3 separate regions of the Homo sapiens genome follow, and regions 1 and 3 are each linked to region 2. Evidence: fine-mapped expression QTL. A gene starts in region 2. Each other region holds a variant in brackets. All regions are shown on one strand. Distances are from middle to middle.

Region 1 (2,795 bases), 31 kb before region 2:
GGACTACAGGTGCATGCTACCATGCCTGGCTACTTGTGTGTGTGTGTGTGTGTGTGTGTGTGTGTGTGTGGAGACCGACTCTCACTATGTTGCCCAGGCTGGTCTCGAACTCTTGGCCTCAGCAAACCTCCTGCCTAGGCCTCCCAAAGCACTAGGATTACAGGTGTGAGCCACTGCCCTCAGCATCATAGTTAAGTATTTTACAAGGATGTCTTTATCTTTTAGAAACAGGCACCAAAATATCCTGAGGTGAGACAATGTCCTGTGTGAGTCATGCTTAATAAAAAAGGGCGGGGGTGGGCGGGGAGAAGCTTGGCTTAGGGGAAGCCTGGTGGGCACTGAAAGGTTCTCCCTACTTTAGTATGTTTGACATTTTGCACAGGAAATGTATCTCAAAACGTGGTAGCAGAAACATGTTTTTAGAGATGCAGTAAACTTAGCGATGAGAATCAGCTGGGAGCACCGTCTGAGAAGGGCAAAAGGGGCTCCACCTGCCATTTTGGTTTTATTTTCTTTTGTTAGCACTGCAGAATTCTCTGACTTTTTAAGCTGTGTGTGTATAATTCTCACAAAAACAGTACATTTAAAAATTATTCTTAGTTTCAAAAAGAAAATGGCTTCCGAGTCTGGGATCCCAGCCCACCCGCCACTGGCTGGTGCTCCTGCAGCGCCCAGACTCGGCGGGGGCCTCTGCAGCGGGACCCACGCCCCCCGACTGGGGCACGCCACATACCTGGGCGCCGGCGCCGTCTGCAGGGAGGGGCTGAGCCAGCAGGTCCAGGTCGCCCCCAGTACTGCCCACGGCCACGTAGCTGTAGGACCCCCTAGTGTACGGGGCGCTGTGCCAGCGAGACCGCAGGACGCTCTTGGGCGCGGGGAGCCGTGGGTTTCCTGAGCCACAGAGACACTGCATGTTAACCGAGAACTCTCACCCACAGGTCTGCAACTGTTTTTGTCATTTTTAAAGATTGAGCAGTTTAACGTGAAAGATGCTATGCAGGAAGAAAAGTGAGCAGCAGAGTGTGTCAGGAGAGGCTCTTCCTGCCGCCTCTGACCCGAGAGCAGTGGGCTGGGACCCGGGGGCCTCTGACCCGACAGCAGCGGGCCGGGACCCGGGAGCTGTGACAGCAGCAGCTACTGTTTCCGAGCCTTGGGTTCCTCCTCTGTAAAAATCTGATCAAGGACAACGGCATTTATTTTGGTGGCAGAAGTAGGAAGTGTTTGCAAAGTCATTTCAGTTCCTCGGAGGTAAGAACTGTTACTGACCCCACTAACATGAGGAAGGATGGTCCCTGGAGATGTACAGAGTCAGCCAAATTTAGTTTTTCTCTGTTCTGCAAAGTCTAGTTTCTGTTTAGAGATCAACCAGTAACGAGCAGAGGCAGGAACC[A/G]GCGTGTGTGGTGAGTACCTACCTGTCACTCTCCGGAGCACTTGGGTGAGACACAGAAGTACTTCTTCATCCGACAGAGTCTCCATGAACTCAGACTCAAGTCCGGCAATGAACCCACAGAGAACGTGGACAGACCTGCATGGAGAAAGAGAGCCCTGGGATGACCAGACCTGCATGGAGAAAGAGAGCCCTGGGATGACCAGACCTGCATGGAGAAAGAGAGCCCTGGGATGACCAGACCTGCATGGAGAAAGAGAGCCCCGGGATGACAGTGTCCAGCCCAGCTCTCCGCCCGCGTTTCTCAGCAAGGAACCACTGATGGAGCAGGGGCCCCAGAGGCACAAAGAGCCACCCCACAGAGCGTCCCTCAGGCAGCAGTTCGCAGAGTGTGGGCGGCAAAGTCCTGGGGGTCCGAAGGCCCTGCCAGGGACCCTCAAGGTCACAGCCATCTTCAGACGCTAAGACAGCATTTGCTGTTTCCACCACGCCGACATTTGCACCTGAGCAAGAGCCAGGGCAGGTAAACCGTCCCTTAGCAGAATCAGGCAGCAACAGGATCCACATGCGCCTACAGGCGTTCCCACCACTGCACATGAGGGTTACAAAATGCTGCTTTTTGCAGCCGTCAAAGAACGAGATCATGTCCTTTGCAGGGACATGGATGGAGCTGGAGGCCATTATCCTTAGCAAACTAACACAGGAACAGAAAAGCAGACAGCACATGTTTTCCCTTTCAAGTGGGAGCTAAATGATGAGAACACACACTGGGGCCTATGGGAGAGTGGAGGATGGGAGGAGGGAGAGGAGCAGGAAAAATAACTAATGGGTACTAGGTTTAATTCCTGGGTGATAGAACTAATCTGTACAACAAGCCCCCATGATACACGGTTAGCTACATAACAAACCTGCACGTATATCCCTGCCTCTGAATATAAAAATTAAAATATATATATTAAAAAATAAATAAAAATGCTGCTTTCACTTGAGAATGTCCTTGATCAAAGGCAGTAAAAGTTACTAATTTTATTAAATCTTGATCCTCGAGTTCATGTCTTTTTAATAATCTGCGTGGAGGGCCAGGCACAGTGGCTCAGGCCTGTAATCCCAGCACTTTGGGAGGCCAAGGCGGGCGGATCACGAGGTCAGGAGTTCGAGACCAGCCTGGTCAATATGGTAAAGCCCTGTCTAATAAAAATACAAAAATTAGCCAGGCGTGGTGGCGGGCACCTGTAGTCCCAGCTACTCGGCAGGTTGAGGCAGGAGAATGGCATGAACCCGGGAGGTGGAGGTTGCGGTGAGCCAAGATCGCGCCACTGCTCTCCAGCCTGGGCGACAGAGTAAGACTCCATCTCAAAAAATAATAATAATCTGCGTGGAGAAGCGGGATCCGCATAGAACACTCCTG
Region 2 (2,795 bases):
CCTCAGCCTCCCAAGTAGCTGGGATTACAGGCACCAGTCACCATGCCTGGCTAATTTTTGTATATTTTGAAGAGACGGGGTTTCACCATGTTGGCCAGGCTGGTCTCCAACCCCTGACCTCAAGTGATCCGCCCGCCTCGGCCTCCCAAAGTGCTGGGATCACAGGTGTGAGCCACCGCGCCCGGCCTGATTTGGTTTTGAAGCTGAAAACTTTCTTGCCCATCTCTATAAAATCCTCTTGCCCTTGTATATTTGGGTAAACGGTGACTCTCCACTTACAAGTTGGAGTAGAAACTGCCCAGGTACAGCTCTGAAACCCGGTGGCCTCGGTGCAAAGCCACCCCTCATTGGCAGGCCCTGGGCAGCCCCGGTCTTCTCTCTGCCCGAGTGGCCGGCCCAGGGCCAGCTGTTCAGGTGCTGCTGGGTGCCAGCCTGGGTGGCCCCACCAGGCTTTTCCGACGCAGCCCAGGCCACTTCCCATGGGGACAGGCTCCTAGGGCCAAGCAGTTCAACATGGAGACGTCTGTTTCCTCCTGGTTTTCTGACGCGGCTTTGTCATTTTTCACATACAGATTGATTTTCAGAACTTTTTAGGAGCCGCCAGGCCTCAGAGCATTTGTGTCACCTCAGGGCTGAGGGCCAGGGCCGCAGTGCTAGCCCCACAGCTGGTGTCCAGCTGGGAATCATGTGGAAGAAGGTGGTTCCGCGGAGGGAGGGCCTGGCCAGCCTGAGCTCAGCCAAAGGTCAGGATGCCGCCATCCTGGGCAGGGGGTTGCAGGCCGCTGACACCGGGGGATGATGGAGGACCCTTAGGTGTCCTGGCACTTCGCAGCTGAGCCTGGAAGCTGGGCCTGGCTGCCCTCCTGGACTCCCCCCAAGGGGGTCCGAAGTCCTGGCTCCCGTGTCCCTTGCTCCCGGTCCCTCAGGAGCGTGGGCTGAAGGCCTGGGTCCAGCTACCCACCATGGTGACCCCAGGGACCCGGTGCGCTCCGGGCATTCTGCCAGGCCTAAGGGCAGCACGAAGTGGTCAGAGGGCAGAGACCCTCATGAGGGGAGGCCGCGGCGGTTGAACCCCTTCGGCCTGAGGGAGCTCGGGGTGGGAGGCTCGGGTAGGGACACTGGGGAGCCCCCGGCCACAGCGCAAGGGCACCCGAGTCTCGGACCTGGCGAGGAGCCCGTGGGCTGGCTGGGTGTTGCCCCCACGCCACGACTCAGCCCGCACGTCCCCAGTTCCTGGGGCTCCCCGCCCTTCCTTGAGCCGCAAGCGGACCCCAGCCCGCCGAACCCTAGGCCCGGCCCGTCCCCAAGCCCCAAGCCCGGGACCCTAAAGCCCCGCCCTCCAATAAAGCCCCGCCCTCCCCGTAAAGCCCCGCCTCTGCCCCTAAGCCCCGCCCTCCCCGTAAGGCCCCCGCCTCTGCCCCCAAGCCCCGCCCTCCCCGTAAGGCCCCGCCCCGGCCCCCAAGCCCCGCCCCTAGGCCCCGCCCGCCCCGTCTGCCGGGCCATGGTGGCGCTGAAGGGTGTCCCCGCACTGCTGTCCCCCGAGCTGCTCTACGCGCTGGCGCGGATGGGGCACGGGGACGAGATCGGTGAGCGCAGCGGGCCGGGGCCTCGGGGAGCACCCCGGGACAGGCAGGAGGGCGAGGCTTGCACGGGGACCCCCGGGCCGGGAAGGGCCGCGTCCTGGGGTGTGGGCGTTGCTCGGGCCTCCCTGGCTTCCGGGCAGGAAGCCCCCTCCCCCGCATTCTTTAGGGAACTGAGACCTCGTGGGGCTCTGGGCGGAGCCGGCCCGAGCTTCTCCCGGAGTCCCTCCCCAGACGGCCCGAGAGCCCTCGCGTCTGGGCTGCCCCCGAGGGTTCGGCGCTTTTTCTTCTCCTGGGGCCTGGGGTCCCGGGGCAGGGGTTGGGTGGCCGGGGGCCTGGTCCGGGCATCGCGGGCAGCCGCGCGTCCTCTGGCCCCTGGGGAGGCGGCCGGGTCCGGGTCGGCCCCCTGGCCTGGTCAGCACCCGACAGCCTCGCGGGCAGCTGTTGACGCCTCTCTGCCTCCCAGGCAGGGACCTTGCCCTCCCCACCTCCCCGCGTGGCTTCCAGCCCTGCGGATCTGACTGCGGCCGGTCGGCGGTGGGGGCGCCCAACTGGCTGACCTGAGACCTCTTGTGACCCACGATCTGCCGCCATGACTGGGTGGGAGGACGGGCGGCGCCGACCCCGAGGGCAGGGATAGGTGCCGACACGGGCTGTCCTCCCGGCTGTTTAGTTCTTGCGGACTTGAACTTCCCGGCCTCCTCCATCTGCCAGTGTGGGCCCATGGAGATCCGTGCAGACGGTGAGCGAGCCCCAGGTCCCCCAGGGCAGGGCGGGCGGGTGAGCGGTGCTCCTGGCTCTGAGGCTCCTCTGTGGCCTGCCGTGGCCCCAAGTCCATGCTTGCAGTGTGAAGGGTGCAGACAGGCAGGCGGGCGGGCGGGCTGGAGACTGAGTGCTGCCTCCTCTGCCCTCCAGGCCTGGGCATCCCGCAGCTCCTGGAGGCCGTGCTGAAGCTGCTGCCCCTGGACACCTATGTGGAGAGTCCGGTGAGGGCTGAGTCGCCCCTGCACCCTGCTGCTCCGTGCCTCAGTTTCCCCTTTTGCGGGCTTCATAGGGCCCACCTGCCTTGGAGTGGGGGGAAGCCATGTGTCCCCAAAGGGGCCCTGACCCTCACCAGGGGAGTCCCGAATGGTCACCTGACCAGGAAGGCTGGCAGTGCCCAGGGCCCCAGAGCTGACCCCTCCCTCTAGGCTGCAGTCATGGAGCTGGTGCCCA
Region 3 (2,659 bases), 38 kb before region 2:
TCCAGCCTGGGCGACAGAGCAAGACTCTGCCTCAAAAAAAAAAAAAGAAAATAAGACACAAGACAAAGAGATAAAAGAAAAGACAGCTGTGCCTGGGGGACCACTACCACCAAGATGCAGAGACCGGTAGTGGCCCCAAATGTCTGGCTGCACTAATATTTATTGGATACAAAGCAAAAGGGGCAGGGTAAGGAGTGTGAGCCATCTCCAATGACAGGTAAGGTCACGTGGGTCATGTGTCCACTGGACAAGGGGCCCTTCCCTGCCTGGCAGCCAAGGCAGAGAGAGAGGGAGAAAGAGAGACAGCTTACGCCATTATTTCTGCTTATCAGAGACTTTCGGTACTTTCACTAATTTTGCTACTGCTATCTAAAAGACAGAGCCAGGTGTACAAGATGGAACATCAAGGCGGACTAGGAGCGTGACCACTGAAGCACAGCATCACAGGGAGACAGTTAAGCCTCCGGATAACTGCGGGCAGGCCTGACTGATGTCAGGTCCTCCACAAGAGGTGGAGGAGTAGAGTCTTCTCTAAACTCCCCTGGGGAAAGGGAGACTCCCTTTCCCGGTCTGCTAAGTAGCGGGTGCTTTTCCTTGACACTGACGCTACCGCTAGACCACAGTCGGCTTGGCAACGGGCGTCTTCCCAGACACTGGCGTTACCGCTAGACCAAGGAGTCCTCTGGTGGCCCTGTCTGGGCATAACAGAAGGCTCACACACTTGTCACGTCTCACTATGTCCCCTCAGCTCCTATCTCTGTATGGCCTGGTTTTTCCTAGGTTATGATTATAGAGCAAGAATTATAATAATATTGGAATGAAGAGTAATTGCTACAAACTAATGATTAGTAATATTCATATACAATCATATCTATGACCTATATCTAGTATAACTATTCTTATTTCATATGTTTTATTACACTGGAAAAGCTCGTGTCCTCGGTCTCTTGCCTCGGCACCTGGGTGGCTTGCTGCCCACAATGCGCACTCACTGACCACTCGGGCTCTGGCAGCACAACCTGGCCACTTCCCACAGGAGACGTGCACTCCCTGGGTGTCCAGGTCACGAACCACACATTAGATGGGGGCACGCCATATGAGAAACGATGCTGGCACGCTTCTGCAAAGCAAAGGGCTGTTTCTAAAGCAGAGCCTGCCTGGGCAAACTGACAAGTGTGCGTCC[G/A]GCAACTCTTCCGTTAGAACAAGCGACCTCGGGAAAACACAGCCACACTGCTGAAGGCGTCTGAGAGAAAGGCCTTTACCTGCTGCTCTGTAAGATCCGCCAAGTCCATCTTGTTGAGGACCAGCAAGTGAGGCTTAAGCCCAAGGGTTTCCTGAAACAGAGGGTTGCGGCCTGAAAGTGGGATGTGGCAAAATTAAGGTAAAAATTCCTCCAAAGCTTTACCAGCCAACCAACTTTTTTTCTTGCCATCAGTGAACGAATCATCACATCCTGCCAATTCATTCCTCAAGTACAGGAGAAAAGCCCCAGTTGGCAGGAACATTTAAACAGTTTCATAGCCCATCTAGAGGATTCCACTGCTGCACCGTACCGTCAGGCTTGAGTGACGCAGATATATGTATTAACAATGAAGTTTCAAAGACACGCAGTCTGGACCCCACATCACAGATTCTGATTAACTGGTCTAGAAAGGGGCCTCGCAATTCATATTTTTAAAAGCCTCCCCAGGTAATTCTAATGTGTAATATGACTTCAGGCAGAGGGGCCTCCCCTGCTCTGTGAAAGGATATCCGGGCATCGTGGACCTCGATGATACAGTCCACCAGCTTCAGGCTGCTCTGCATCTTCTTCAGCCCTGGAAAACAGAAGGACGCCTCAGCGAAGGGGCTCACAACCTTTCTAGAGTGATCGATTCAAGCTGAACCGTCCAGAATGACACGCCACCATAAATAACCTAAAAAGACTATATCTGAGGGAAGCGTACTAAGTAATGGTAACAGATAACATCCGCTGAGCGCCTCCTCCAAGGTCCGCACCCTCGGAGTGGGAGACTGGGAGGCACCCTGCCACAGGGTGGGCCATGTGTCAAAAGCCAGATGCGGTCTTCACCACCTGACTCATGGCTGACTCTGGGTGGAATATTTAACGTGCATGGGTCGCTTTTTTGTTTTCTGAGACGGAGTCTTGCTCTGTCACCCAGGCTGGAGTGCAGTGGCACGATCTCGGCTCACTGCAACCTCCGCCTGCCAGGTTCAAGCAATTCTCCTGCCTCAGCCTCCCGAGTAGCTGGGACTACAGGGACGCGCCACCATGCCGGGCTAATTTTTTGTATTTTTAGTAGAGACACGGTTTCACCATGCTGGCCAGGATAGTCTCGATGTCCTGACCTCGTGATCTGCCCACCTCGGCCTCCCAAAGTACTGGGATTACAAGCGTGAGCCACCGGGCCGGGCCCTTCCACGGGTCTTAATCTGGGCTATAACACAGAGTAACACTGGCTCATTAGGCCCCTGCTACCTCGCGGGGATGATGACGATAGTCCCCTAACCAGGAATACCACACACAACCAAGATAACAAAGCTTCCAGCTTTCTTCCCCTCCAGTGTTATCCGAAGACCGAGGACACAGCCTCAGTCACCCACACGGGCCCTTCTTCCCCCTCGGCCCCCAGTACACGCGGAGCCGACGCAGGAGTGG

What was found. PIP is the estimated chance that this variant, and not a neighbour inherited with it, causes the effect.
Region 1: its variant is fine-mapped to the expression of FUOM in whole blood (TOPMed, PIP 0.91).
Region 3: its variant is fine-mapped to the expression of FUOM in whole blood (TOPMed, PIP 0.99).

Annotation. Positions count from the first base shown.
Region 1 is chr10:133,387,686-133,390,480 of GRCh38, reverse strand. It overlaps PAOX (polyamine oxidase), which reads right to left. Exons shown (of 7, transcript NM_152911.4): 5 at 1,413-1,525; 6 at 734-891. Among named protein-coding and RNA genes, the nearest start is that of MTG1, 5.1 kb to the left of the region's middle. RefSeq lists silencers at 593-672, 1,262-1,556, 1,813-1,970 and an enhancer at 1,723-1,852. The variant A/G (reference allele first, on the strand shown) is at 1,391.
Region 2 is chr10:133,356,714-133,359,508 of GRCh38, reverse strand. FUOM (fucose mutarotase) reads left to right here and starts at 1,490. Exons shown (of 6, transcript NM_001098483.3): 1 at 1,490-1,586; 2 at 2,254-2,322; 3 at 2,496-2,566; 4 at 2,771-2,795. The coding sequence starts at 1,502. RefSeq lists silencers at 67-229, 1,262-1,341, 1,392-2,011 and enhancers at 2,162-2,261, 2,739-2,795.
Region 3 is chr10:133,394,871-133,397,529 of GRCh38, reverse strand. MTG1 (mitochondrial ribosome associated GTPase 1) reads right to left here. Exons shown (of 11, transcript NM_138384.4): 2 at 1,753-1,817; 3 at 1,263-1,367. Among named protein-coding and RNA genes, the nearest start is that of MTG1, 2.0 kb to the right of the region's middle. RefSeq lists an enhancer at 1,693-2,647. The variant G/A (reference allele first, on the strand shown) is at 1,184.